Homo sapiens: one gene and its partners. The protein of the gene in region 2 purifies or fractionates together with the protein of the main gene of each other region. This does not show direct contact. Each region holds a gene or a part of one and is shown on either strand. Other genes may lie near its edges. The genes, in order: PIGN, TMEM63A, AP3S1 and SLC29A1.

Region 1 (7,044 bases), on a different chromosome or scaffold from region 2:
ACACAAATTTTTTATCCCCCCCTTTTGGGGATAAAACCAAAAAGGAATGATCTAGAAATACACACAAAGACATAGATGACTTTTAAAAACATGCTGAAGGCAGATACACAAAAAAATACGTTCTATGATTCTATTTATATCGAATTTTAGAACAGGCAAAACTTATCTAAAGACGTAGTTCTCAACTGGGGCAATTATGCCCTCCCCTTCCCTGGGCAATGCTGGAGACATTTTTGGTGGTCATAACTGGGGTGGCATAGGTATGGGGGTGGTTGCTAAAGGCATCTGGTGGGTAGAGGTCAGGGATGCTGTTAAACATTTTATAATACACAGGCCAGCAGCCACGGCAAAGCATTACCAGGCCCAAAATGTTGAAAGTACCCAGGCCCAGGTTGAGAAATTCTGTTCTAAGTGATCAGTGGTGGTCTAGATGGAAGTAAGGATATTGAATGAAGGAATTCTGGGGATAATAAAAATGTTCTGTATTTTATTTTATTTACTTTTATTTATTTATTTATTTTTGAGATGGAGTCTTGCTCTGTCGCCCAGGCTGGACTGCAGTGGTGGGATCTCGGCTCACTGTAACCTCTGCCTCCTGGGTTCAAGCAATTCTCCTGCCTCAGTCTCCCGTGTAGCTGGGATTACAGGTGCCCACCACCACGCCTAGCTAATTTTTGTATTTTTAGTAGAGAAGGGGTTTCACCATGTTGGCCAGGCTGGTCTCGAAATCCTGACCTCGTGATCTGGCTGCCTCATCCTCCCAAAGTGTTGGGATTACGGGCGTGAGCCACTGCACCCTGCCGATGTTCTGTATTTTAATTGTGGTAGTGACTGATTTGTCAAAACTCACCAAACTGCACACACTTAAAACGTGTAAATTTTACTGTATGCAAATTTTACATCCAAGTTGATGCTAAAAAGTATAGTGCCTGTATAAGACTATGTTAAACAGTTTAATCCATTTTTTGTTTTTTAAAACACATGCACAGAAAAGACAGGTAAGGCAACTACCATTAAAGACAGGAAAAGCAAATACCATTGGTGGGATTATGGATAATTTTGAATTTTTTGTCCTGTTGTTCATTTGCTTAGTATTAAGTAAAAATTTAATAAACTTGATGTGTACACACACACATAGAGACAAACACAAACACTTATATATCCAGTACCTAAAACAGGTACAAATAAATGAGGATAATAGAAAAGCACAGGTGCACATGAATATTTAATTGTGATATTTGATCATAAGACTCTAGTTATTTCAAGAAAGTATAAAAATGTATAATGCAAAGGCACTTAGAAGTAAGGTTTTACTCTAAAACACTGCTAAACTATTTAATGAGCTCAATTATAATTCTTTCAATACAAAAAGTTTGCAAGGAGGAATTTTCACTAGAAACAATGCTATGATAGCCCTAATAAGACAGGGTGAAAAGGTCAAGAAATTCTTTAAAATTAAATGAATAAAGTTACCAACTAAGGAATAATCCATTTCACTGTATTAATACGGTTGAAAACACAGCAGATACAATTCAGTTATGTTCATCAACAGCCAGGGACTGAGCAAAGTGTGAGAAATTTATTATAAAAATGTCTCTGAAGAACTGACCAATGGAGAAAAATGGTATTGTCAACAATCACATACAAACGGGCTAAAGGCTATGATGGAGGTTTGAAAGTGTTAACAATGAAAGAAACCAAGCAACTACCTAAGCCTGGAGGAAGCATGTACAAAGGTGACATCTTAGCTAGACCTTGTCTGGTGAAAAATCATGAGATAATTTAGAAATCTTAGAAATAACACAAAAACCAAAAAAAAAAAACAACAAAAAAAAAAAACAAAAAAAGACCCACCACCACACATAACAATTTTGTTACACTACTGTCTCATTTTATAGTCTTAAAGGTCAGCAATGAGAAAATCTTTTCCCGAAAAAGAAGATTATCCTACATATTGGGTAAGGAAATTATAACTACTGAGAAAATCCCATATCCAAGGGGGAAATATATTTAAGATTCACCTTGATAGAAAATGCACTCCCTAAGCTTCCACCACGTCTACGTTTGGCAATTTAAGTCTCTGGCACTATTCAAAAGCATAGTGATTAAAAAAAAATCAATTAGGCTGCAGTTTAAAAATTCTATATGAATACTTGTTAATATAGAATTAATATATGGCCTCATACTAAAACATCTCCATACATTAGTAAGGGAATATTTAAGATACCTCCCAAAAGGGAGACACTGGGAATCCTACATACAGTACACTACATCTTTGACAGTAAGTTTTCAAGCCATAAGAGATGCTTACGAATATATGGGGTAAACGATTACTCTATGCTGCTAAAAATCATTCCAAGGTAAAAAGGTCAATTCCTATCTAATGCAAAGAGAAAAGCCTGCAAGGTGGTGGGATGGTGAGACAGACTGCTGGTAGAACCTGTCTGCCTTGCTCCTTGGATTTCCTGTAATTTTGGACATTACTTAAATTAAGGCATTGAAACTGAATTACATCAACTTTATCTCAACAGAACAAATTTTGTGCAGCAGAAAACCCAATTTTGGCGGTGAAAAAGTCGTCCCAAAGACAAAGGGTCTTAAGTACATCTGACTTTTCGGAGACAGCAGCAGTGTGTCCTATTCTTTCTCTCCTGGCTCAGACTCAAAGAACTACTGCAGGCAATTCAGGTAACACTATTTCCTGGTAGTGTGATTCAGGTAACTGGAGAAAAAGGAAAATGCTTAAAGCAATAAACTAGTATAAAAGGGAACCTTCTGGAGTCCCGTAATAGCCAGTGAACTAGAAACTCTTGATATTTTATAGATACTGACACCAGTAGGGGAGCCAGGAGCCAAGTGCAACACCAGCCAAGGGTTGGAAGCAGGCAGAGAGAACAGTCATTGCCTGATCCTCTTGCTTCCACCGCAAAAGAGCGCCCCCACCCCAATACTCTCGTTCCTTAAAATGTCCCTATCGGGACCCACGCAGAAATACCCCCTCTCCCCTACAGTAACTCCGTACAATCCCAAATACCCTGCCGGAGTGTGACAGGCTGCGTCCACTTACTGAGCTGTCCCCCGCCCGACGCTGTACTCGGTTCCCGACCTCCAGCGCCCCCAACGCCGGCTGCTCCAGGGACCCCTGGCGCCCCCATCCCCGGCGGGGTTCCACTTTGCCTCTCGAAGTTGCCTGGATTGGAGAAGTAGTCGCGCAGCCGAGGCAGCTCCCGGCCACTCTCTAACAGCTCGGTATGCAGCTCCAGGGCGGTCAGCAAGTATTGATCGCGCAACAGCTGAGCAGCGATCGCATCAATTGATAATCGGGCCGGGGTCTCCCCGGTGCCCCCCAGGGCCACTGCAGCCGCCGACGCCTCCCCAGGGAGCCCTGGCCGCGCACTGCTTCCTAAGGCCACGGGATCCTGTGGCGACAGCGAGCCCGCAGAGCCAGGATCTAGGCCACTTCCGGCGCCCAGCCGAAGTACTGCCCGCCGTTCCTCTGTTGCAGCTACCTCGTCATCGTCCTCATCCGAATCACTGAGAAATGGATTCACGCCGCCACCACTGCCACTACCTCCAGGCGCCATCGCCGCCATCTTATCCTGTCAGGAGTGTGGGCGCCTCCCTGACTGGTTCCGACGGGCCGCAGCCCGAATCCTCTAGGCCTCAGGGGACACAGCGCACCTCCACAGCCCCGGCCTGACCACGTCCTGCCTCCCGACTTAGAGACAAGGAGTACGCTCCAAGGCAGGAGATCCGGATGCAGCTGCACCTGATGCCTCAGCCTCTGCTGCACCAGCAGCCCGGCTCTGCAGGCGTCTTCCTGGTCTCCAGTCTCGCGAGAACTGGAGCGTGCCCCTGCCCCTCTCCCCGATCTAGCCCCGCCCCAGCCCCGCCCCAGCCCACTTCAGCTCCGCCCATTCCCAGCGCCAGATAGCAAAGATTGAAGGCCCCGCTCTCCGCTCAAAAGCAAAACTCCACCCACGACTCCTCCATGATTGGTCAGAGAAGGAAGGCGTGGAGCGGACTGACGGGAGACTGGCCCGAGAATTATCGCGATAGCAGCAGCGGCCGGGCAGGTATTGGGGGCGTTCCGGAATTGAGGGGTGGTTGTAGTGGTGGCTTAGGAATACCCTCCCGGCTATCGCTTCAGTGGGTAGAGGGGACCACTGCCCGAGAGCTTTAATGGAGCTGGGTCCTGCCTTCGCGCTGAGGAGCCCTCGTTTTCGAGATCAGGCCTGACCGGGATAAGCTCCAGGTAAAGTTCAGGGACCAGTGCGCGGAGGGTGTCGGCGCCCAAACTGTGGTGTCGCGCCCGCGGACGCGCTGTTTCCCTACTGCGCTGCACTTTTTCTCGCTATTTGCTGCCAGTGGTGACATTTTGTCCCCATGGATAGCAAGTGCCCAGGCCTGTAGTCGGAATGTGACTTCCTTTCTTTTCCCTTCTCTGCCACATGCTTGCACACTCGGGAGGCCTAGCGACAGCACGACTTCTCAGCCCCGGAGGTGGTCCTGCCTGTGGGTGGGGACGGGGGCTGGAGAGACTAAACGGAAAAGGGAACGCTGAGGTTGGCATTTGCCTGGATCTGGGAACATCGTCGAGTTGGAAAACAAATTGTTAGGTACTCAATAAACGCTTAGGATTTAATACACGATTTACACAACAGGGACCCTTCAGAATATCTAATGCTGTCTCACCAGTAGACAGATAAGTAAACTTAAGCCAAGAGTGGTTGTTATAAAATCAGCTCCACGCCGGGCGCGGTGGCTCACGCCTGTAATCCCAGCACTTTGGGAGGCCGAGCCGGGCGGATCACGAGGTCGGGAGTTCGAGACCAGCCTGACCAACATGGTGAAACCCCTTCTCTACTAAAAACACAAAAATTAGTTGGGCGTGGTGGCGCAAGCCTGCAATCCCAGCTACTCAGGAGGCTGAGGCAGGAGAATCGCTTGAACCCCGGAGGCGAAGATTGCAGTGAGCCGAGGTCGCGCCACTGCACTCCAGCCTGGGCGACAGAACGAGACTCCGTCTCAAAAAAAAAAAAAAAAAAAAAAAAAAATCAATTCCGCTAATAAGGAGTCAAAGGAATTAACATCATTTCTCTTATGTCCCAAACGATTCTTTATCCACTGTCTCCTGCAACATTTCTGACTCGTTCATGCAGGCTAGAATCAAGGTTTTGGAACTTAGAACTATTTTAAAAGTTGAATGCTTCAGAGAGTTTTGATTTTTTTGATGAAATGTTAGCATATAAAGTACATATCCTAAGTTTAGAAGATCAACGTTTATCTTTTATGTCATTCCTTGATTATGATCTGAAAAGGTAAAGGAATTTCCAGTCAATACAATTAGACTGCTATTTCTTATGGCTCCTATTTTTTTCACACACAAATGACCACTTTTCCAGGCTTTAGATTTCCTTTCTTAGTGTACAGGTAAGTGACATATTACATTCAGTGTGTAGTAAACATTCCACAGTAAAGTATCTCCCGTTAGCTCCATGGAAAAATTAAAATAGACGATTCTTACATAACCTTAGGTCAGGTTATTGGTTTACATGTAAAAGTATGCCAACAGTTAAGAGTAGGCTTTAATTTCAATATACCCAGGCTCAATAAACTAAAATTTTCATTTGAATGGGGATTTGGGTTTTTAAAATTTTATTTTTGCTAGAAGTTTAAAAAAAAAGTACCAAGAATTTAAACTATTTTTTTATAGGACATTAGTTCCCAATGTTTTAATGATAAATAGTTTTCTGTGCCATATATTAAAAGTAAAACATGGGGAAAAAAATCCCCCCAAATAGAATTGAAATGGCAAATACTGTATCCTGTTAGAGATTTCTTAGCAAAAGGGATTGCTGATCCGTATTTTAGTTGGATTTTCCAGAGAGATTAAAATGGAACCAATTTCTGGAATCCAGGAATGGAGGATTAGTGAATGGCATGGGAAGGGCATGATTAGAAATGGATTGTTTATATACAATATTTCCATCTCCATGATTGGGAAATTGAGAAATCTCCTGCATTTAGGATTCCTGAAGAGGATTATGCTTATAAGATAGAAAAGCTTAAGTTCAGATCCCAATTCTACTCATTATTTATTGTGAGACCTTGAAAAAGTTACCTAACTTCTCAGCCTCACTTGCATTCGTCTATCAAAGGGGATAAGGAAAGTACACAGAATTGAGAATGTTCTTGTCCCAGTGCCTGGTACCTGCTACACAATAACTATTACTGTGGTCACTTATTAATTATTGAAATATTAGTATGTGTTGAGAACATTTGACAAGTGTTTAAAAATAAAACTAATATCAATCGTTTTGGCAGTGCAAGCCTGAAAAAGCAATTAAGTCAGTAGGGCTGAAGGGAGTATCTTTAATTTGGGGTCTCAGTTCTAAAACACAAGTTGAAAATAGATTTAAAATGTTTCCTCAGAGTTGTAAGAACTTGCATGTAGAGGAATTCTTCCCATACAAATCTGTGGTTTTCTGCTTCTATTTCTGCCTCCTATCCTATAACCATGAACTTGTGTGTTTGATCTTGTAAGCCCATTAGAAATCAACTGCCCAGTCTTCCCAGTATGTACTTTTCTTTTCCACAATACACAGAGGTTTGGTTATTCGTGAATAATGTATAAGTAACACACACTGGAATATTAAAAATTACCGATCACTACTTATAATAATGTATTATTAATAGTGTTGGGAAATTTCCTTTCTACTTAGTAAGATTTTCATTAATCTAGGCCCTTACAACTAATGTTTCATCTGACTAATGATAGTTATTAAAGCTTGTGCCTTAGCAATGAAGATGTAAAAGATGCCTTTTTTCAAAGCACGTCAATCATTTTAGTATTTAAAAAATTATTTTAGGTTTTAATAGTCTTAAAAGAACCACAAGTAATATTCTGAATGCAAGTTTTGGTTGACTTGAGGTTTTAGTAATACCTCATGTTTTATTGTTTTTCAGTGTGTGGTAAACATCCACAGATAAACTAGATAACTTGTATTGGTACATGCATATATCTTTTTAAAATTTTAATAG
Region 2 (7,404 bases):
AGCTGTGCCTCGGATGGTGCGCTCGTGCCAAGGAGGCTCCAGCCATAGGCGCCTAGTGTAGCCATCGAGGGACTTGACTTGTGTGTGTTTCTGAAGTGTTCGAGGGTACCAGGAGAGCTGGCGATGACTGAACTGCTGATGGACAAATGCTCTGTGCTCTCTAGTGAGCCCTGAATTTGCTTCCTCTGACAAGTTACCTCACCTAATTTTTGCTTCTCAGGAATGAGAATCTTTGGCCACTGGAGAGCCCTTGCTCAGTTTTCTCTATTCTTATTATTCACTGCACTATATTCTAAGCACTTACATGTGGAGATACTGTAACCTGAGGGCAGAAAGCCCAATGTGTCATTGTTTACTTGTCCTGTCACTGGATCTGGGCTAAAGTCCTCCACCACCACTCTGGACCTAAGACCTGGGGTTAAGTGTGGGTTGTGCATCCCCAATCCAGATAATAAAGACTTTGTAAAACATGAATAAAACACATTTTATTCTATAATTTTGTAATTTTCTATTTTATTTTAATTAATTAATTATTTTTGAGACAGAGTCTCACTCTGTCACCCAGGCGGGAGTGCAGTGGCCCAATCTCGGCTCACTGCAGCCTCTGCCTTCCAGGTTCAAGCGATTCTCATGCCTCAGCATCTTGAGTAACTGGGATTACAGGCATGTACCACCACGCCAAGCTAATTTTTTGTATTTTTATTATTATTATTATTGAGACAGCTCTGTCGCCCAGGCTGGAGTACAGATGGCGCTATGTTGGCTCACTGCAAGCTCTGCCTCCCGGGTTCACACCATTCTCCTGCCTCAGCCTCCCGAGTAGCTGGGACTACAGGTGCCTGCCACCATGCCTGGCTAATTTTTTGTATTTTTTAGTAGAGACAGGGTTTCACTGTGTTAACCAGGATGGTCTCAACCTCCTGACCTCGTGATCCGCCTGCCTCGGCCTCCCAAAGTGCTGGGATTACAGGCGTGAGCCACTGCACCTGGCCTAATTTTTTGTATTTTTAGTAGAGATGGGGTTTTGCCATGTTGCCCAGGCTGGTCTGGAACTCCTGACCTCAAGTCATTCGGCAGCCTCAGTCTCCCAAAGGGCTGGGATTACAGGCACAAGCCACTGTGCCCGGCTGTAATTTTCCATTTTAATCAAAGCTCTGCAAATTGAGGAAGGAGCAGAAAGTTCTACAGCGATTAGGTCAACCTGATTGTAAAACTAAGGAAGGAGCTTGAGTTGGCCAAGACTTGGTAAAGATCTTGGTTAGGTAATACATGAAACTAGGATTAAAATGCTTTCAGGGCCAGCACGATGGCTCACTTCTGTAATCCCAGCACTTTGGGAGGCCGAGGTGGGCGGATCACTTGAGGCCAGGAGTTCAAGACCAGCCTGGCCAACATGGTGAGAGTGCATTTCTACTAAAAATACAAAAATTAGCTGGGCATGGTGGTGTGCGCCTATAATTCCAGCCACTCGGGAGGCTGAGGCATGAGAATCGCTTAAACCCAAGAGGCGGAGGTTGCAGTAAGCTGAGATCACACTACTGCACTCCAGCCTGGGCAATAGAGTGAGATTCTGTCTCAAAAATAAAATAAATAAAAATAAAATGCATTCTGATTCTAGAATCTATGGTACCTGCCCTCCCAGAATTGATACAGAAATTTCTTTTTTTTTTTTTTTGAGACGGAGTCGCCCAGGCTGGAGTACAGTGGCAGGAGTGCAGTGGCGCGATCTCCGCTTACTGCAAGCTCCGCCTCATGGGTTCACGCCATTCTCCTGCCTTAGCCTCCCGAGTAGCTGGGACTACAGGTGCCCGCCACCACGCCCGGCTAATTTTTTTGTATTTTTAGTAGAGATGGGGTTTCACCATGTTAGCCAGGATGGTCTCTATCTCCTGACCTTGTGATCCGCCCACCTCGGCCTCCCAAAGTGCTGGGATTACAGGCATGAGCCACCGCGCCCGGCCAATACTGAAATTTTTTTGTTCTTGACACTTTGACTTTCCTGGGCATAGTGACTGGGCTTTATTCCAATCCTACTTGCATCAAAATAAAATCTGTGATCAAAATTATCATCTATACTTAGAGAAGAAAATAAAGCTTCAGAGGATCTGGAATTTATAGCTGTAAGAGCTGTGCAGCTGGGCGCGGTGGCTCACGTCTATAATCCTGAGGATCACCTGAGGTTGGGAGTTTGAGACCAGCCTGACCAACATAGAGAAACCCCGTCTCTACTAAAAGTACAAAATTAGCCGGGTGTGGTGGCACATGCCTATAATCCCAGCTACTTGGGAGGCTGAGGCAGGAGAATCGCTTGAAGCCAGGAGGTGGAGGTTGCAGTGAGCTGAGATCACACCACTGTACTACAGCCTGGGCGACAGAGTGAGACTGTGTCTCAATAAGTAAATAATTAATTAAAAATTAAAAAATAAAATAGTGATTTTACAAGCACTTCACACAACTGACATAACAAAGGCTGTGGCTATCTCAACTCACATATCGATCCATCAAGGCCTTCTCTTGATTTTGAAATAACCTTAACCTACTCAAGAACAAATTTAGAAATCCTTTCTCTCTCTGAAATCTTTGTCAGTGGCTCCAGCATTCTAATTACCAAGACCGGAACCTTGCACTTGCCTGGACCCATGGCACAGACCAGACAGGTGGGGGCACCATTCATTGAGGAAGGAAGGAGGACAGGCAGGTGCGGGAGTGGGGAGTGGAAGAAAGATTGGACAGGGACAGTCTAAGGAGCCAACGGGGAGTCCAGGGGCCACACCCAGGACTCTGCAGACCGTCAGATGTGGAGGTAAGAGAGCAGGGAGGGGGGATGGCCAGGCGCAGCTATGGAGGGACAAGGGCAGAGATGATACTGGCGGGGGGCATAGAGGAAAAACCCTGGAAAATAACTAGTGGCTAGAGCTTTGGGGAGAGAAGGGGAAAGACAGATGGGACAGAAAAGAACTGAGAGAGGCAGGAAGAGACCCTCCCCACCCCACTCCTGGACAGCCACAGACTGGCGCTAGAATCAGGGACAGGGAGGTAAGGAGGAATTTTTTTTTTTTTTTTTTTTTTTTTGAGACAGAGTTTCGCTCTTGTTGCCCAGGCTGGAGTTCAATGGTGAAATCTCAGCTCACCGCAACCTCCGCCTCCCAGGTTCAAGCGATTCTCCTGCCTCAGACTCCCTAGTAGCTGGGATTACAGGCATGTGCCACCACACCCGGCTAATTTTGTATTTTTAGTAGAGACGGGGTTTCTCCATGCGGGTCAGGCTGGTCTCGAACTCCAGACCTAAGGTGATCCGCCCACCTCGGCCTCCCAAAGTGCTGGTATTACAGGCATGAGCCACCGCGCCCGGCCATAAGGAGGATATTTTTATGCCGTTACAGAAAAAGATGAAAGCTCAGAAATGGAAGGGAGGTCGGAGAACCTGCAAAGGCATGCATGTGGGGTGAGGACTGCTCAGAGCTCAGAGAGGGGTGCTGGAAGGGACCTGAGAGGAAGCTTTGGTCCAACCACTCATTTCACAGATAGGGAAACAGGGGCCTGCGGACGGGTTGGTTTGCTCCTTGATTCCCAGGGCGCGCGGTCCTCCCCGAACCCAGCCTCGCTTCCCGCGCAGCGCCCAGCAGTCCCTGGCGCGGCGGGCCGGCCCTGCCCTCGCGAGCTTGCGGTCCGGTTGTGGAGGCCACCGGCTCCCTGGAAACATTTGGCTCCCGGCCGGGAGGCATGCCGCGCTCTCGGACCTGGGCTGGAGTAGGTGCCCTTGGCGGCCCTGGCTCGAGCAGTAATGGACTAGCCCCAGGGGGCGTTGGAAATGCTGCGACCCGCCCCCACATTTTTGCCCGAACGGAGACCCTCCGGGCTTTCACGGTCCGGCCTTCTACAGCGGCGGGGGAGCCGTGGCCTCTTGCAGGGCGCTCCGCGCGGTTCCCGACTACCCGGAGCCGAGGTGCGGGCTGAATCCTGCTGAGCTCCCCATGCTACCACCCCCGCAACCCCACTCTCCCGGGGCGGGTCTAAGAGCTCTTCGGGGAAATTCAAAGCACTACAGGGACCAACGTTTGCAGATGCTCTCCCTGCGCCGCGACCACCCTGTGCTTGGCCCAGTTCTCCCGGAGGCGTCCAGAGACTGGGCTCGTGCCGGGGGACGGAAGAGGGTGCGCCCCGGCGGATCCCTTCTTGGAGCCTGGACGTGAGCTGGCCGGTCCGGGGCTTGCAGACCTCCGGGAGGAGCTGCGGGGCTGAGCGGCGACCAGGAGGCCAGGCCGGGGCAGAGGACCGCCGAGGGCCACCGCGGGAGGCGCAGTCAGCTGCGTACAGGCTTGCGCCGCCGCGGGCCAAGACTCCAAATTGGGAAAGGGGTGGCCGCAGCTCTGCGCATGTGCAGGAGGCGCCGGAGTTTCACTTTGTAACTTTTAAGTGGTCGGAACACGCCCCGCGCTGCTGGGTCCCGCCAGACACGCCGCCGCCGCAGGTACAGGGGACAGGGGGCGTGAGGAGGGGCAATGCACCCTCCGCCTTTCCCGGGACGTGCGCGCCAGGTGTCCGGTTCCGGAACGGCTCCCAGCCTACGCAGACCCCAGAGCCCCCGACCCCAAGCAGGGGGTGACGACGCGGGATTGGGTGGGAGGAGAGGGTCCGGGCAGCGCCTCCATTCCAGCCCTGCGCTCCTTGGGAATTCCTGGCGGCTTTTCAGGACTTTCCTCTCCGGCTTTTCGCTTTCAGGGCTGGTATCTCCTTCTTCCCCACCCCTCTCTTTGGGATTTGTCGGCGGAGTCCGACCTCCCACCTAACTAGGAGTGCAGCTATGGGCTCCTCGGACCCTATACGAGGCCGGGCTGGGAAAGGGCCAAGCGTCCGACTCTCCTGACGCCAGGAAGGCAGAGGCCACCCCTCGGGCTGTTCCTGGGTGACCACTTCCTGCAGCCTTGGCGGAGTCCTGAGGAGGGAGGCTGGGGACTCGGGGACTGGGGGGAAGGGCGGGGGCGGAAAGGGTGAGGCGAGCTCTGCTAAGAAACCAAATCCGCAAAGGTTCCAGCACCTGATAAGACTAGCTACCTGAGGCCCTGGAGGGGCCTTGGTCATTCAGCCCCAGGCAGGTGGTGTCCTCTTCAAGGGCAGGGGTGGACAGCGTGGCGGACCCACTGACCCTCCCTTGACACCTCTCAGGTCATCCTCAAGTCTGCTGTGCCTTCAAGGGGGATATGAACGGAAGCCGAGGCTCCTTTTCCCTTCACACGCCCCTCTCCTTTGTTTAGTGTGGGGGCAAAGGTCTCTCCTAGCTGTTCGTTGGGCTCTAACAGAGAAGACGTCAGGTGGGATCCTGCCCTTGTGTTTCCCATTAGCTGGAGGGGCGACTTAAAATAAAGGCAGACAGCTTCTAATTGCTTGCTAGGGCCGGGTCCTGGGCTAAGTGCTTTACAGGTGTTGTTTGGGATCTGTGCCTCCCAACAGCTCCGTGAGAGAAAGTCATCACTCGCATTTCCTGGCGAAGGAAGCCAAGGCACAGAGTGGTTAGGCTGCTTGTCTGAACTGCGTGGTGCTGAGACCCTAACTCCAGAGCCTGCTCACATAATCCCTGAGCCACACTGCCTCTGGTTTCAGCCAGGGGCTGTGTCATTTCCTTTGTGCTCCAGGGTAGGAGGTAAACAGTTGTCCAGGTTACTGGGTCCTGTTTGGTGTTGCCATAAGGAGAAGTTTGTACTTTACTTTGCAACCTTATTCTGCATCTGAAAGACCAGAGTTAGCTCCTGAGGCAGAAGGCCTGGAGCTGCTTGTAGTTTCGCTATTGTCATCACAGGATTGAAAGATTTGGTGATGATAAAATTACCCTGAATTTGTACGGGCCTTCTTGCAAGAACGAACAATATCCATATACTTCCTGCAACATTCTGCTGGTATTTCTAGAGCTTGTCAAGTTGACCACCAGGCCAGTCCTTGCTGCCAATGGAGACTGGCAGTGGATTAGCATAGGTAGTTTACTTTGGCAAATTTAGACCAGCTGTTGGATTTAGCCCTCTCCCACTGGCCACAATCAGACGCTTGCCTGCACATGGGTTGAACTTTGGGTTGGGAGCGTGAAGTCACCTGCTGCCCACTCTGGCTCTTGGGCCTCAGCAGTAATTCTTGGCTTTCCTACCCTCGGCATATTGAGTAGGAATAAGGGGATGAATGGAGAATTTCTGGAAGGCACAGGTAAGTGCTAGGCATTCACATACATCTAGGATGACTGAATATTGCCAGGGGTTCTCAGCCAGGCAGTGCCACTTCAACCACAGTGCCTAGCTGCTGGTTTGGCCTCCTCTATACAGCTGCCAGCTGGGTGCTCCCCTCCCCCTGCCTTCTCCTCAGCCTGGCAGCACTGTCCCATGGTGTCTGTGTTCCCAGCTGCCTGCTCAGAGCGTGCCTGTTTGTGAAAATGCAGAGGAGCTGTCCCATGGAGAGCCAGAGGGACGGAGCTGTTTCAGGGGGATCTGGACTTTATGTGTCTAATGGGCAGGGACAGGCTGGGACTGAGCTGAAAGGTCTGAGAGAGATTGTGGGTCCCCAGAGCTCTACCCTAACCTGGGTGCTCATCGGAGAGGGCAGACAGGACTGGCCACCTGACCTTACCTCCGTCTCAGGCTGATAGTATTTGCTAGCCACCTCCCTGAGTTCATATCAAACTTTGTCAAACCACCCTGGGAAGCCTATTTGGCAAGAGACAAGTAACTTAGAGGCATGACTGGGGCTGGAGGGAGGGGGAAGAGGAGCCGCAGGTGTTTCCCTCCGCAGAGGCCTCTCTCCTCTGCAGCACTGGCGAGGGTATGCCACTCCCAGCACCACCACAGCACCCTCCCCTTTCCAGGGACAATGCTCTCTCTGTGAGCATTTTATGGGGATGTTTTTTCTTTCCACTTCACATTTCAAGCCTTCCTTGTTCATGCTGCTGTGTTCCCTTTTCCTGATTCTAGCTCTTGGGGAACCCTGGGGAGCCTCCCCAGTAGCATTGGCCCTTGGGGCCCAGGTGAAGTCCTTTGCTTGGGGCCCTACCGTGAGCCCACAACCTCCAGGGTTTCTGTGGGAGAGGGCTGCTCCCCTAGACCCAGCAGGTCCCTGAGCCATTGGCAAAGAGGAGAGAGGCTGGGGCCACAGGTGGTGCTGGCCGAGGAAGGAGGAGTAGGGTCGCACAGAGGAGCACTGATGGATGGAGAACCAGTTCTGGGAGTTTGGGGAGAGATCAAGGCAGGAGGGAGCCCACTGGGCAGAACCTAAAGGTCCATATGGGCAGCATGCATACACAGGTGTGTGCTGGAGGGTTTCCATCCAGACCCCTACACTGGAAAAGGGTGGCTCCCATGTGATGCTTGGTGTCTGTGATCCTTCAGGAAAGTCTACAGTTTGGTACCCCAGGACTCGCTGGTCAGG
Region 3 (7,570 bases), on a different chromosome or scaffold from region 2:
AGGCAGGAGAATCGCTTGAACCAGGAGGAGAAGGTTGCAGTGTGTCACTGCACTCCAGCCTGGGCAACAGAGCGAGACTGTCTCAAAAAAAAAAAATGAATAAATAAAAATAAAGGGATAAAAGGGCATAACAAAAGCGACATATGTGGCTCCATATGCATTTCTATAAACAACAGTTAATTCACTGTTGCCTAGGAACTACTGCAAATTTTTGTAGGAAAACATCACCATTGGTTTCATACCAACTGTTCTGAGGCCACAAGTTTAAGAAACTTTTTGATGAAGTCAATGAGTCCTTGGATGGTTCGTGTTCGCTCTACTGCCCACTTCTTTGTTTTCATAATAGGAGTGTCTCCCACAGCCTTTAGCAAAATGTCAACTGTAAAAGAAGAATAAAATTTACTGACAATTACACTGAAACATCTAAAGAGAATGGAATATAAAAGACTTAGAAATCAGAAATATTTAATCTACATCCATCTTACGTATTTATGATACTGAAGATATGTGAGAGATGTAAAAATGTTAGATTCTTTTCCATCATTTTTTTCTTGATCCTACAAAGTTCTCCCAACAGGACTAATTTTTAAAATGCCTTTTATCTTAACAGGCAGTTCCAAAGAGAGGAAATACAAATGATCAATACACAAACAATATTTAAGTTCACAAAAAGCAAAGTAAAATAATGTCATGTCCCTTTTCACCCACCAAACTAGTTAAAATTAGAGTAATTACCAGTGTAGATGATACTACTTTTGAGAATGTAAAATGGTATACCCTTTGTGGAATGCAGTATGGTAATACAGATCCTAATAAAGGTATACTTTGATTCAATAATACTTCTAGGAATCCAGTGTAAGAAAATATGAGATGTGTGAAAATTCACTTAAAAAGATTTCACCTCCATTTAAGCATTTATTTTTATATGAAACACTGGTAAACCTAAATACCCAAAAAGGATATTTGGAGGTGACTGATTAAATAGAATGTAGTAAACCGCATACACTTTTAACTGCCTGGGGTTCGAATCCTGGCTCTGCCACTTGCTGGGTATATATGTGGATATTTAATCTCTCCAACAGCATGTATAATATCTTAAATTCATTAAAAACCATCACAAACACATTCACATAAATATGGAAGAATATGCAACAAAATGATATTTCTCAGTAGTGACATTGTAGGCAATGATTACTTGGATTTACTTATGCTGTTTGTAACTACCAAATTTTCTGTAATAAACTTTTTAATAAAGGAAAGCAATAAGTTATTAACAATAGAACAACCAAAGCCAAAAAGAAGTTGCAGAAAGAGAAATCTTAAGGTTTCAACGATCCAAAACACAGATATGCAAACCCAAACCCTATGAATCTGTCTCTCAGACATAAAGTTATTTGCTAAAACAAAACAAACATACATCTGGCTGGGCGCGGTGGCTCACGCCAGTAATCTCCACACTTTGGGAGGCTGAGGCAGGAGGATCACTTGAGGTCAGGAGTTCAAGAGGGCCCAGTCCCCTTCCAACTTCTTGTTCACGACCAGCCTGGCCAACATGGTGAAACCCCATCTCTACTAAAAATACAAAAACTTAGCCAGGCGTGGTGGTGCATGCCCGTAATCTCAGCTACTTGGGAGGCTGAGACAGGGGAATAGCTTGAACCCGGGACGCGGAGGTTGCAGTGAACCGAGATTAAGCCACTGCACTCCAGCCTGGGTGACAGACTGAGACATCCTCTCAAAAAAAAAAAAAAAAAAATCTACAGTCAAAAAGCAAGACACATTGAAAGCAAAACAGTGTATTGCTGCCCCCTAAAGTTAACTCTATTCTATTACACCCTTCTTGCTCCATTCTTTAGGTATTAAATATTGGGGCCAAAAGATCAGAGGTCATTTTATTCAAGTTTACTCCTGGAATGAACGCATCTAGAACACATGATCTTTATCTTCCTACTAAAGAACTACTTAATTATCCTAGGTCCAGTTATCTTAGGAATAGGAATGAATTTGGAGATAACGTGGGATTTTAGTTAGCCTATCTTTCATACCTCCTTTCACTGCTCCCTCAAATCCCCTGGGGCTATCAATAAATCGATTAATTCAATTAAACATTTCCAGAAAGTGAAGCAGGAAATATCATGAGTTATGCTACCAAGGATGAAGTGTAAGACAGTGAGAAACCAGAGAAGGAAAATAATTTAATTATAGCTGCCCTCTCTTTTTAATTTTAAAGGTGATTTGCTTGTAGTTCTGAACCCGGATACACATTAGAATCAACTAGGGAAACACTTACTCCCCAGGAAACCTAACATACCTCCAGTGCCAAAACCTTGGTCTGTTTCAACAATCTTTCTTCTGTAGATTAACAAAGGCTGAGGATACAAAACAGTTAAGCTGCTTTCATCATATTATCCTCAACAAATAATGACAAGCACAAGGTAGGAATAGTTAGAAACTAAGTTTTATATTGGAGAGGCAAACTCAAATGCTAACAAGAGCCAGAAAATAAAAATCTCATCCTTAAATGACAGTTCAATTTGCAAAAAAATACTGTCCAGACCAAGAAAATATGCCCTCGGGCAATATTTAGATTGTAAGCCATTTTTTTTAGCTTTTGTTTTGCACAGCTATCATCAGAGTCAAGTAACAAGTTTTGACTAAGACTGTTAGACCTTAAAACGAATCTCCGAACGTCCGCTCTTGCCTATAGTAAATTGGAAGAAAAAATGCAACAAAACACTGTAAAACCTGCGGAATTCTTTTGAAGAAAGATTCCAGTGGCTATCCATGGAAATACTTATAGTGCATCAGGTGGAAATGGGAGTCTGATTTAAAGTGGGAAGGGGGGCAGTCTTGGGAGAGAATTATCCTCCACAGTAGCAGAAGTTGAAGAAAAAGCAATGAGACCAATGTCTTTTTTTTTTTTTTTTTTGAGGCGGAGTTTCGCTCTTGTTGTCCAGGCTGGAGTGCAATGGCGAGACCTCCGCCCACTGCCACCTCCGCCTCGCGGGTTCAAGCGATTCTCCTGCCTCAGCCTCCCGAGTAGCTGGGATTACAGGCGCGCGCCACCACACCCATCTAACTTTTATATTTTTAGTAGAGATGGAGTCTTACCATGTTGGCCAGGCTGGTCTCGAACTCTTGACCTCAGGTGATCCACCCGCCTCAGCCTACCAAAGTGCTGGGATTACAGGAGTGAGCCACCGCGCCCGGCCAGAGACCACTGTCATCTTAAGACAGAACGGGGAAAACGTCTAAGGACGAAATCAGCCTCTCTGAATCGAGGATGCTTATATGCTGCTTTTCCCATAGGCAACTCTAACTCTAAACAGAGTGCTTTAGAACACGTAATTTTAGCAATCTCTTTTACAAAGGGAAACATTCTCAAGCAATAAAGGGTTGAGGATAGCTGACTCAAGCAATGAAATAACTCACAAAGGTTCCAAAATGTGTTTCTTAAAAAGGTAACATCTATGCCTTTAGCTTTCCCTTAGCAGTCTTCATTCTGCATAAGAATTTGGTTTTTGGTTTAAGGAGTGAATTCACAACCAACTGGGAGGGGGAAAAAAGCAAAAGCGAGTTAAGTTGGAAGGCATGAATTCTAATCCAGGCTTTGCCAATGACCACCCCTACCACCATAAAACATTACTCAAATAATTAGCTCCTGTGTTAAGTACCTGGAATTACCGAGACCCCCCTCCCCCCGCCCCACTCAGCTCCCTCCCTCCTTCAAAGAGCTCGCAGTCTGGCCAACTCAAAAAAATACAGTATAAAAATAAGTGTGGCAGCCAAGTATCAGGCCCTACACCGATAGACAGAGATGGTATTTTAACACTCAACTTAAAGGCCTTAAAAATCAAAAAGTACACTTCTTTTCTTCTGATGACTGGTCAAAATGCAGGTCTAGGACAGGCGCTCCTCTAAATTTTGCTTCTTTACTGGCCGCCACCCCTACTCGGATGCAATCTGAACCTCCCGCCTCTCTGCCCGGAAATAAATTCAGTTACTTTTTTTCTTGGTGTCGCCAGCAGGTTCCTCTGTTCCCGGGGAAACTGCAGCGGAAGACGGGGGCTCCGGGGTGGTTGTTTCTGGGGAGACATCCGTAAGTCCTTCCCCTCCAGCAGCAATTGAAGTAGGAAGCTGCAACACAGACTGCGGCTCCTCCGCCATCTTGCTTGGAGACACTCGAGAGCGGAAGTAGCGACTGAGCGCGTGCAGTGGGCGTGCTTTTCTCCAGGGAGCGTCGCAAAGGAGGCGCCGGAGTAGGGGGACGCAATTACACAGTGAAACTTGGTGTTCCCGGCTAGTCATTCAAATCGAAGCTGTCGCAGACCTCTGAACGTTAGTAACGCAACATGTGTTTCTCCGCGACTACAGACCTCGGGAGAGGAGCGGTGGGCAACGTGTCTGTGCTCGGTCGAATGCGCACACTCCAGTTAGGCCGCTGGCTCGGACCTAGAAATGTTTCCGCTTTCCTTAGTGCCTGCCCCGCCCAGGCCCCGCCCCTTGGGCCCCGCCCGACGGCTCGGGAGCGCGCGCGGTCGCGTGCGGGAGGGGGCGGGTGGGGAAGGATCGCAGGCGAGATTACGAGGCGAGGCTCGCGCGCCCGCCCCCGCCCTGGCCCCCAGTGCCCACCCGGTCGGCCCGGCACAGCCATGATCAAGGCGATCCTAATCTTCAACAACCACGGGAAGCCGCGGCTCTCCAAGTTCTACCAGCCCTACGTGAGTATCCAGCCGCCGCTGATCCGGGCGAGGGGGAGTCGTTGGCGACGGGCAGCGCCCAGCGCGGCTTTCTCAGAGCGACCCCCTCCGGCGCGCTGCGGCCCTTGTCCCGTCCCGGCCGCCTGGCGCTCGCCAGCTGTCAGCCTCCTGGTGGGTGTGGACAGGGTGCCCACCTCCCTGCCGCGCGGTCAGCCACCGACGTGGCTTTGCCCGGGCGGTTCCTCCGCCCGTCGGTGGGCTGCATGCTTTCCTGGCTGCGCGGGCGAGGCCCTGGAGACTTCCCGGGGCCCGGCCCTCGCCGATCGGGCAGCCGCAGCCCAGCCGCGCCGCGGAGCCCTGCGCCCAGTCCCCAAGAGCCCACCCCGCGCGGCTGCCTTCCTGCCGCCCGCGGCTGCAGTTAGCCCGGGAGGAGGAAGACGGCGTGGAACTCGTTCTTCTCGCCCCCCTCCGCCGACTCCCATCCTTTCCAGGTGGACTTCTTTCTGTTCTTTGGACAGATGGGCTACCGTTTTTCACTGTGGTCCTCTCATAGCACAGGAACTTTGGCTTCCTGCGTTTGATAACTGCACGTTCTGTACAGTCTCTCTTCTGCATGTTTCGATACGTGACAGACTGCCCAGTGTGACTTTCAGGTGTCTCCTTATTGAAAAGGAAGATATGTGAGGACCTAATATTTTTATCAGGCTTTTTACCAGCTGGCTGCAAATTATTTACCCTCGAAGTAACCGGCGACGTTTGTAGTTGACTGATTGGAGCTGTGGTTCTATACCTAAAAGTTATGATTTCAGCTTCTGGTTTGGCATTTTTCCACGTATGGGAATTTGCCCTCATTTATAGTTTTTTTCTATTTATGAAGAATAGTAGCATTTGTAGAACTTCTCTTTTAACGTGTAAATACTGTTTAGTATGGACAAGTGCAGGAGGCATTAAGGTAGTAGAGATAAGTGATTTGTTGATGATCGAGGAAGGGTTTTATAGAGTTATGTGCTTACCTGAGGGCAGAATTCGCTAGCTGAAACACATAAAATTGGACTCCCAGTGGTAGGATTAATGTGAGGTATAACTGTTGTGTGGTATTGTGGCACTTTGCTTATAGCAAGAAATGAGCTTTCAATTCAATTTTGAAATTGTGCCAAGGCTAACACTTTTATGCAGATAAGTCCCAGATGGAAATCAATCTTGCCATTACAAAGTAAATGTGAAAATGTCAGTTTGCCTAAAATGATAATGCAGTCTGGAGGTGTTAGTTGAAGTGAGAAATCTTGAGCTTATTCTTCATTTTTTTCAGTTGTTTTGCTTTTGCTAGCTATAAAGAATATTTTCTGCTACTCGTGTGTGGTTTTAATTTAGTATAACTTCAATACTAATGGTCTGTTTAAAAATTCTACATCATTCTTTAATCCAGATTAAATTCTAGTTGATCCTCCCGAATGGGAAAAAATGCCATTAACTTTACCTGTTTGTTAAAATATAGTACCAGCCTTTATTGAAGGAGTCTTTGTCATAACCATTTTGCCAGTGTCATCCATTTGCAGTGTAAAAAAGGTATGTTGCAATAGTAAAACAATTCAAAAAATTATTTTTCCATATCTAAACTTAAGCAATATTAAAAATAGTGGGTTTCCTGGCTAATCCATGTAATCGGTGTATACTACTCGTATAGTGTATAATTTAACTATCTATTGAAAAATGCATTTAATTTAGAAACTCAGAAATCTGTCTTTCCCTTGTCCAAAAGTGGGAACAGAAGTATTGTTTACCATCACTTACTAGGTAGCAGTGACGGTTAATGTGGGAAGTGGCAGTTTTGGCAGGAGTGGCAGCTCTGGTGGCATTTTTGGCCATTGTATGAGTGACAGTGCCACTGAGGGCACAGAGCTAGAAGATATAAAAAGAAGAATCTGGTGGTCACTGGCCGTTTATAGGTGGAGTATGAGAAGTTGTTTCTGTGTTTTAAGTTTCTATAAGTTGGGTTTTGCCGAGTGTTTTTTTGTCTTTCAGGAATAATTTAAGATTATTTATTTATACATTTGCTTCCTCCACTAGACCATAACCTTTTTGAGGGCAGTTATTTTTTTTCAGTCATTCATTCCATCAGTTTGTCAACGGATAAATTTAATTTATGCCTACCATGTGCAGGCACTGTTTTAAAATCTGAAGATGAACAGATAACTTTCGCTCTTGTGTGAGGAACATAGCACTATTAAGGAGTAGGCTGTATTATAGCATGCCAGATAGTATTACGTGCTGTGGAAAAAAAAATAAAGCGGGTAAGAGTCTTAGAGAGTGAGAGGATGACAGTTTAAAATAGGGTAGTCTGGTAAGTTCTCACTGAGAAGGTGGCATTTGAGCAAAGACTTGAAGGAGGTAAGAAAGGCAGCCTTGCAGATATCTGGGGGAAGAGCATCCCGGGTAGAAGGAGCAGCAAATGCAAAAACCCTGAGGAGAGCGCCTGTTTGAAGAACCCCAGGAACTTGTACATAGCAGGAGCAGACTGTGTAAGGGAACATTAGTTGGAAGTGTCTGTTTGTGTAGGGCGTCATTCTATTCTTGCTGCCTGGAATGTCCTTCCTTTCCATTGCCACGTGTACAAATTCAACCCCTTGTTCTAGGCCCAGCACAAACATCACCTAAACATTCCGTGAAGCCTTTGATCTTGCTCAAAGCCTCCTCCTGGTTTTTAGGATTTTTTTCATCTTTGTTATGACACAGTATTCTCGTTCACAGCCTATAATTCCTCGTGGCAGCCATCCTATAGAATACTTGAAGGAACGTATCAGATTTTAGGTATATTTTTGTCATTCTAAGCAGTCAACACTGAGTCTTGAACATAGAAAACTCTCTAACTC
Region 4 (7,222 bases), on a different chromosome or scaffold from region 2:
TCCAGCCACTGCCCAGGGGCTTCCTAGTTGCTGGCCGGTTTTCCAAGAAAATATTTCATAATGGATGTGGGGGCACAGCCCTTCCCCCTCCCCCCTCCCGACCCCAGGGTCACCTAGTCCTCCCTTAGTTCCTCTCTGTCACAGGCTCCTGTCCGCTTCCCCTTTCTAAGAGTGACCTTGAAAAGAAGATTGGAGGGGTGGATCCCAAAGCACCTATCCTTCTGCCTCAGCGTCCCTCTCCTGCTCCCCATTTGTGTAGGGGGAGACCCCCTGGCACCAGCAGATTAAACAGCTTTCCCATTGGGTGGCATGGGAAGCCAGGCAGATGTGCACTGACACATTCCCCACACTCAGGCCTAGCTGGGCCCAGGCCTTGCTGTTTGGGGTGAAAGGACAGCTTCCCTTCCCTCCCTTTCTGGGCACTCACCAGGTGCCCAGACTGGCCAGCAGAAGGGTCAGAGCAGAGCAAGCCTGGGCAGTCCCTAGGAGGTGCTCCTAGTTCAGGCTCAGGCAGTGGGCCTTGTCCACGGGCTCCTGGGTGCGGATCCAGAATGAAAAAGGTGGCACAGGGTGTTATCAGGAGAGAGTCCCTCAGGCTTCATGGGGCCCCATTCTGAGAAGCCTTGCAAGCAAAGAAGCAGAAGCACACCCAGGAGATAAAAAGCCACCCCTGTCGCTCGGGAGATAAGAGAACAGGGAGTCTCAGCAGGGGAGCTCTCGCAGGTGCAGCATTGCTTCTGGCCCCACTCAGACAAACAGAAGCAGCTGGGCACCATGAGACCTTCCACGGGCTCTCCCACCTCCCTGTAGTTCCTCTCAACCCTCCCCAGGGAAACTCCAAGCTCTCAGAGGTCCTCCTCAGCCCCTCAGCCCCACACCTCCAGATAGAGGCAGAAGGATTCCTCCATTCAGGCCTTCGACAAATATTTACTGAGGACCTGTGCATGCTAGCCAGGCACTGTCCTAGGCACGAGGGGTGAATAATCATATTTACATTTTCTAGAGAGATGAAGGCAAGAGGGCATTACTGGAGTGGGGGTGGGGGAAAGCCTCAGGTCTCAGATTTTTTCTTTTTTTTTTTTTTTTTGAGACGGAGTTTTTGCTCCTGTTGCCCAGGCTGGAGTGCAATGGCATGATCTCGGCTCACTGCAAATTCTGCCTCCCAGGTTCAAGTGATTCTCCTGCCTCAGCCTCCCAAGAAGCTGGGAATACAGGCTCCTGCCACCACCCCCGGCTGATTTCTGTATTTTTAGTAGAGACAGGGTTTCACCATGTTGACCAGGCTGGTTTCGAACTCCCGACCTCAGGTGACCCACCCACCTTGGCTTCCCAAAGTGCTGGGATTACAGGCATGAGCCACTGAGCCCTGCCTAGGTCTCAGGTTTTCTATTAGGTAGTAGGGACTCTTCCTCTAGGTTCTTACTTCATACCCGCATACCCCGTACTCCACCCCACAGGCAAGATTCCTGGCAGTTAAGAGCAGGTGTAGCTTCAAAGCAGATGGGGGCCTAGGGTGGGGAGAATAGCTCCTGTTCTCCTGGGTAAAACTGGCTTAGGCTTAGAGAAGAAGTATTTATTTCTTCCCTGGCCCCCTGCTACACCCCTGCTCTCTCTGTTCTCAGGAGTTCCCATACCAGTCTTGGGCACAATTCAACTCCAGCCCTCTCCTCCTGCCCATATCCTAACATTCAGCTGGCCAGCCTTCGTGTTTTGCTTTTGTCTGCCTTTGCCCAGCGGCAAACAGGGATCTGATACCAGCTCAGAGCATCTGGTGTCCCTCCAACTATGCCTTGGCCTGCTGAGGTGGGCCCCTGAAAGTAGCCACCAAATTGAGTACCTCCCTGCCTCCAGACTCCCAACACCTCTCCTGCAATTCTCCACTCCCAGGATTTCATATGGGGCTAGCCACTACCTGCAGATCTCTTGTCTTTTCTTCACAACCACCCATAAGCTAGTACTAGCACTGAATAGATGGGGCCAGCTGAGGTTCAGAGGGGTTGAGTCACTTGCCTGAAGTCACAGAGCTGGTGAGTGGAGGAGCTAGAATCCATATTAAATGTTCAAGCTCCTTTTGGAATGGAGAGAGGTATAAAAGCTGCTTCTCAGTTAGCCCTGTAGACTGGGAGGTGGGGGGAACTCTGATTCAACTAAAGGGAAAAATGAGGTGGAGACCAAGATCATTCCCAGCCTGACTTGAGTGTCAGGCAGCTCAGCCCCGCCCCATCACACACATCCTGGCATGGGGAGCTTACACAAGCAGGAGGAAAGTTGGAGGGTCTGGAGGCCACCGAGAGGAGTAGGCAAAGGGACTACCACAGGGCTGCAGAGAGACCCCTAGAGGTGTGAGGGCAGGGTTGGAGCCAGCCTTGACCTACGACTGCTCTCTCCTGGTAAGCAAAGCCGAGGACTGTTTGTCTTCACCCTCTCATATACCCTCACAGTAAATCAGTAAATGAAGACGTGCGCAGGAAGGAGACGCCAGGGATACGAGTTTAGCCAGTAAAAGACCGGGGTTAAAGAGACAGCCCCGCACCTCCGCTCGCGAGCCTGCACCTCCGCTCGCGAGCCTCCATCCCCATCCCCATCCCCATACCCCTCCGCCAGCGCAGTCAGCGGCACGGCCCCTCCCTGATACCGACCAGATCGATGGGGATCACCCGTCCACTCGCCTGCCCCTTGCGGAGGTCAACGTGACCGCAGCCTGTTTTAGGCCCGGGAGCCAGGCCGCCCCGCCCAGCTTGGGTCCCGGTCCCCGCAGGGTCCTCAGGCTCCCTGGCCCGTGCGCGCCACGTGCTGCGCGGCTCCGCACGCTCCGCACTGGGGCCCCACCCGGCGTCCCTTCTCCGGGCTGCGGAGCCGTCAGGCCCGCCCTCCCTGCCCTCCGTGGCAGGCGGGCAGCGGCGTCTTCCGCCCCGGCAGTCCCCAGTCCCCAGTCCCCGGCCCCGGGCAGCACCTGCCGCAGAAGCACTGCTCCCGCGCTGAGATCCGCGCGCTCTCGCTGCAGCTTCCCTCTCCCGCCGGGGCACATTCAAACCCGCCCTCCGCTGAGCTCGCCCCGCCCTGCGCCCACTGCCACCTCCCCGACGCCCGCGGCCCCGCCCCCGGCCCACCCCTGCCACCCCGCGGCGACTCCGCGCGCTCCGCCGCTCCCACCCCGAGCCCCTGCGCCCCCAGGGCCGCCTGGTCGTGTTATTGCGGTAGATAGGACCTCTTTGGGCCCTGCCACACCAAGGCTGTCTGTCCATCGTGTGGGGTACATGGGGCTGGAGGGTACAGCCACACATTAAGGACCTGCGCAGACTCCCATAAAATTCATCTCGGGACTGTTCCATTTACACACCCGCTGCTCAGACCGGCCCCGACGCTCCACGGCCCACTCCACCTCAGATATTCCGTTATCCCTTCCCAAGCCCTGCCCACGCCGCGCTTCCTCCACACTGCACCTTTTTCCTCCCAGCGCCCTCCCTTTCAGCGCCCCCTTCTTTCTTTCAGTCCCCCTCCTCTTCTTTTCCTTCAAAACTGCTTCTGTCCCCACCGCGCATTTTCTGTGACCAGCATGATGGGTTTTCCCATCCCTGACACATCCAGTCCCAGCCACAGACGCGCAAACACCACCCCACTCACAACTTTGACTTGGAGGGGGTATGTGCCTCTGCCTGTGCTTGCGTGTGCGCGCGGAGGGGGGTGGGGCAAAGCCCTCCAGCTCCCTCATAATTCACCCTTTCTAAATCCAGCACTTTGGAAAACTGAGGCACAGGTGGGAATGGGAAGAGAAAAAGCTAGGAACAGCCTTATATCCTCAGTGAATCCTATTGTCCCAGCCATCCTGACAGGCGGAAGCCTTGCTGAGTATGTCTTTCACTAGCTAAGGAGGAAGGTGTGGGCGTGCTGAGGGGTGGTCCAGCAAGTCCCTCCAAGGGAGGGGGAGGGAGGCCCTCTCTTTGGTCGGGCAATAAATGGGGTGGGGTGGGGGGCACTCCCTGCCCTTCCAGCAGTACTCAGTGCTAGAGGATGATCCTAAGGCTGGAAAGGTCCTGAGGAGAAAATCCAACCCACGCTGCCCACCCCATGCCCACTGACCCGAAGGGCTTGTCCCCTAGAGAAGCCACAGACACTGATTAACAACTGGCAGTACCTCACATCATAGGGATAAGGTAGTCCTACCCTGTCCCCAGAGAAACAGACAGGGCCCTAAGGAGAGAGGTGGCTTTTCTAATTAGGGTCAGTGGCTCTCCCCAAGCTACTCCAGAATGGGTGTCCCCAGCCTTCTGTTTCCATGCCCCACAGAGATGACACACATATTCCTTCCCAACCCTCCCCCACCCCACCCCCATCCCCCACATCCCCGCCAGCCCTAACCAGAGGGCAGGAAGATGGGTTTAGGTGGTATTTTTCCAGGCACAGCCCCATGACTTGAGAGTGGCTTCATGTCTGTCCACAACCCCCTAATTCCTGCCCTCATGTTTGTCCAGTCTCTCTCTCTTCCTCTCCTAGCCCTCCTCTGCCCTCTGCCTTGGCCCCCTTCCTCGCTCCCCACCCTCCTTTCCTGGTCTCTGGGTCTGTGGGGGTGGCAGGGCTAGTGGTCAGAAGATCTGCCAGGCATGGCAAGGCTGGTGGCCAGTGGCTGCAGTTGTGTACAGAGGGGGCTGGAGGTGGAAGAAAACTGGAGGGAAGTGGTGAGGGTCTCAGGCCAGACTGGGAAAGGCTGGTTCCTCTCCCCACCCAAACTGGGGCCCTGCCAGCTCGGTGGATGGCAACAGCCAGGGCTGTTATTGTTGGAGAGAAGTCCGTCTGGCATCCATCCTGCTGGGCCCCTAGCCAACACCCACACCCCTCTGTAGCCACCTCCCAAGCAGAGGTTGCTGGGTGCCAGGGCCCCCTGCTGGACAGCCTGGGAGCCCCAACTTACACAGGCCTTGCCTGGAGTTTTTCTAGCCAGGCCTTGCCAGCTCTCTTCAGTCTCTGCCTGGTCTTCTGGCTTCTCTCCCTCCCTGAGCTCCCTCAGGTCCCTGTCGAAGGGGTGGGGTGGGAAGGGTTGGTCCTGCTGCACCTCTACTCTACACCTTATTCACCACCCTATATGGGACCGTGGCTTGGCCCAGACTCCCTCCCCAACTTGGCAGGCCCCATGCATGCCTCACCACCTCACACACAGTCCTCTCTCTCCCCAGGCATGTGTCCTCTCAGCTGTCACCAACAAGTCATGTGTGTTTGCTGGAAGTGTGTTTGCTTGGCCTGGGGGTTGGTAACCAGCACATGTCTCATGACTGTCTGTGTTCTCAGTTGTGTTTGTGACTGTATCTCCATGGCCTTGTGACAGGGCTGGGACTAGGGAGAGGCCAGTGAGGCACTTGCCAGGGGTGTAAAATGTAAGGGGGAGCCAAAAAACTCATGAATCAAGATAAATTTTAGGCCAGGAGTGGTGGCTCATGCCTGAAATCTCAGCACTTTTGGAGGCCGAGGTGGGAGGATCACTTGAGCCCAGGAATTCAAGACTAGCCTGGGCAACACAGTGAGACCCCATCTCTACAAAAAAAATTAAAATAAATTAGCCAGGCATGGTGGCTCGAGCCTGTGGTTCCAGGTACTCCAGAGGCTGAGGCCGGAGGTTCACTAGAGCCCGGGAGGACAAGGCTTCAGTGAGCCATCATCCTGCCATTGCACTCCAGCCTGGGCAACAGAGCAAGACCTTGTCTGAAAACACAAACAAACAAACAAAGATACATTTTAATGTAATCAAAATAAGTTTGTTTTTTTTTTTCTTTTCTTTAAGATGGAGTCTCACTCTGTCACCCAGGCTGGAGTGCAGTGGCGTGATCTTGGCTCACTGCAACCTCCACCTCCTGGGTTCAAGCGAGTCTCCTGCCTTAGCCTCCTGAGTAGCTGGGATTACGGGCACGTGCCACCACGCCCAGCTAATTTTTGTATTTTTTTTTTTTTTTTTAGTAGAGACGGGGTTTCACCACGTTGGTCAGGCTGGTCTCGAACTCCTGACCTTGTGATCCGCCCGCCTTGGCCTCCCAAAGCACTGGGATGACAGGCGTGAGCCACCACACCCAGCCCTTACCAAAATAAGTTTTAATGCAATGTCTACAAATCAAGACTCCATGATGCCAAGTGCAGTGGCTCACATCTGTCATCCCAGCACTTTGGGAGGCCAAGGTAGAAGAATCACTTGAGCTTAGGAGTTCAAGACCAGCCTGGTCAACACAGGGAGACTCTGTCTCTTAAAAAAAAAAAAAAAAAAAAATTAGCTGAGCATGTTGACGCATGCCTGTGGTCCTGGCATTTTGGGAGGCTGAGGTGGGAGGATGGCTTGAGTCCATGAGGTCGAGGCTGCAGTAGGCTGTGATCGCACCACTGCCCTCCAGCCTGAACAACAGAGCGAGACTCGGTTTTTGTTTTTTTTTAAAGACTCCATGATGAATAAAACATCAAGATTTTTTAAGTAAAGACAGGTGTGTTCACAGTGTGGGTACTGGCTCGGGGTTCGAGAAGACTAAATTCTTTGTTCAGTTAGGTCTGGGCTGGTCTTCTAGGCTAATTTTCCAGACCTCTTCCCCCTACCCTATGTTCCTGGGACATCTGTAAGTGGCTGGGGAGTTTGGGGAGGCAGTCATCTAATAATGGCCTTCGAAGGCCCAGAAAAGTGGCCCCGCATCCAGAAACCAAAGATTCTGACTCCCCTGAGACACTGTAGCCCAGCGGGTCCCCCTACTGGCCCCCTGTCCCGCCCGGCAGCGTGAGAACGGCGCAGACCTCGCCCCCACCCCACCCCGCCCCGCCAGGCCCCCCGGCCCCGCCCCGCGCACCTGCTGAGACTTTGGAGTGAGCATCCGGACTTGGTGGGGGACGGAAATTCCCAGGCCTGCGGGCCCCTAGTTCTCTCCCTCCTCATCTCGGGGCTGGGGCCATAGCCACAGCTGGAGAGCGCAGCCCGCGCCGGGCCTGACCGGTGTGGGCCGCCGGGCGGAAGAGAGGCTGCAACAGGCGACCCCAGCGCCCGCCCAGAGCTCCGCAGCCAGCTGCGTCCAGTCCTCGCGGCTCAGGGGCGGGGAGACCAGAGCCGACTCAGTGGGAGGGGCCCTTCGGGCCTGGGACTGGCGGCCGGCGCCTTTGGGCACCCGAGGCTCCGGAAAGGGACGGGGTTAGGGGCCCAAGGGCTCGGACCCCCTTCTCTCTGCCCCTCCCCCTGGGTCGCCTCCCTGAGACCTGGGAGCAC

The links.
Region 1: the proteins of TMEM63A (region 2) and PIGN purify together in Homo sapiens (affinity purification with mass spectrometry; 2 studies listed by BioGRID and IntAct, with this or other methods). This does not show direct contact.
Region 3: the proteins of TMEM63A (region 2) and AP3S1 purify together in Homo sapiens (co-immunoprecipitation; 3 studies listed by BioGRID and IntAct, with this or other methods). This does not show direct contact.
Region 4: the proteins of TMEM63A (region 2) and SLC29A1 purify together in Homo sapiens (co-immunoprecipitation; 2 studies listed by BioGRID and IntAct, with this or other methods). This does not show direct contact.

The regions. Positions count from the first base shown.
Region 1 is NC_000018.10:62,184,055-62,191,098, reverse strand, and holds the start of PIGN (GPI ethanolamine phosphate transferase 1), read left to right. Parts: upstream 1-4,042; 5' UTR 4,043-4,255; intron 4,256-7,044. Other genes in the region: RAB11-binding protein RELCH, read right to left, coding at 3,068-3,593.
Region 2 is NC_000001.11:225,879,371-225,886,774, reverse strand, and holds the start of TMEM63A (mechanosensitive cation channel TMEM63A), read left to right. Parts: upstream 1-4,394; 5' UTR 4,395-4,471; intron 4,472-7,364; 5' UTR 7,365-7,404. Other genes in the region: LEFTY1 (left-right determination factor 1 preproprotein), read left to right, coding at 1-48. UniProt on the Homo sapiens protein: Mechanosensitive cation channel with low conductance and high activation threshold. In contrast to TMEM63B, does not show phospholipid scramblase activity. Acts as a regulator of lysosomal morphology by mediating lysosomal mechanosensitivity.
Region 3 is NC_000005.10:115,837,386-115,844,955, forward strand, and holds the start of AP3S1 (AP-3 complex subunit sigma-1), read left to right. Parts: upstream 1-4,549; 5' UTR 4,550-4,652; coding exon 4,653-4,721; intron 4,722-5,101; exon of another isoform or gene 5,102-5,191; intron 5,192-7,570. Other genes in the region: ubiquitin-like protein ATG12, read right to left, coding at 243-379, 4,005-4,167. UniProt on the Homo sapiens protein: Part of the AP-3 complex, an adaptor-related complex which is not clathrin-associated. The complex is associated with the Golgi region as well as more peripheral structures.
Region 4 is NC_000006.12:44,219,373-44,226,594, reverse strand, and holds the start of SLC29A1 (equilibrative nucleoside transporter 1), read right to left. Parts: upstream 3,001-7,222; 5' UTR 2,954-3,000; exon of another isoform or gene 2,640-2,953; intron 535-2,639; exon of another isoform or gene 428-534; intron 1-427. UniProt on the Homo sapiens protein: Uniporter involved in the facilitative transport of nucleosides and nucleobases, and contributes to maintaining their cellular homeostasis. Functions as a Na(+)-independent transporter.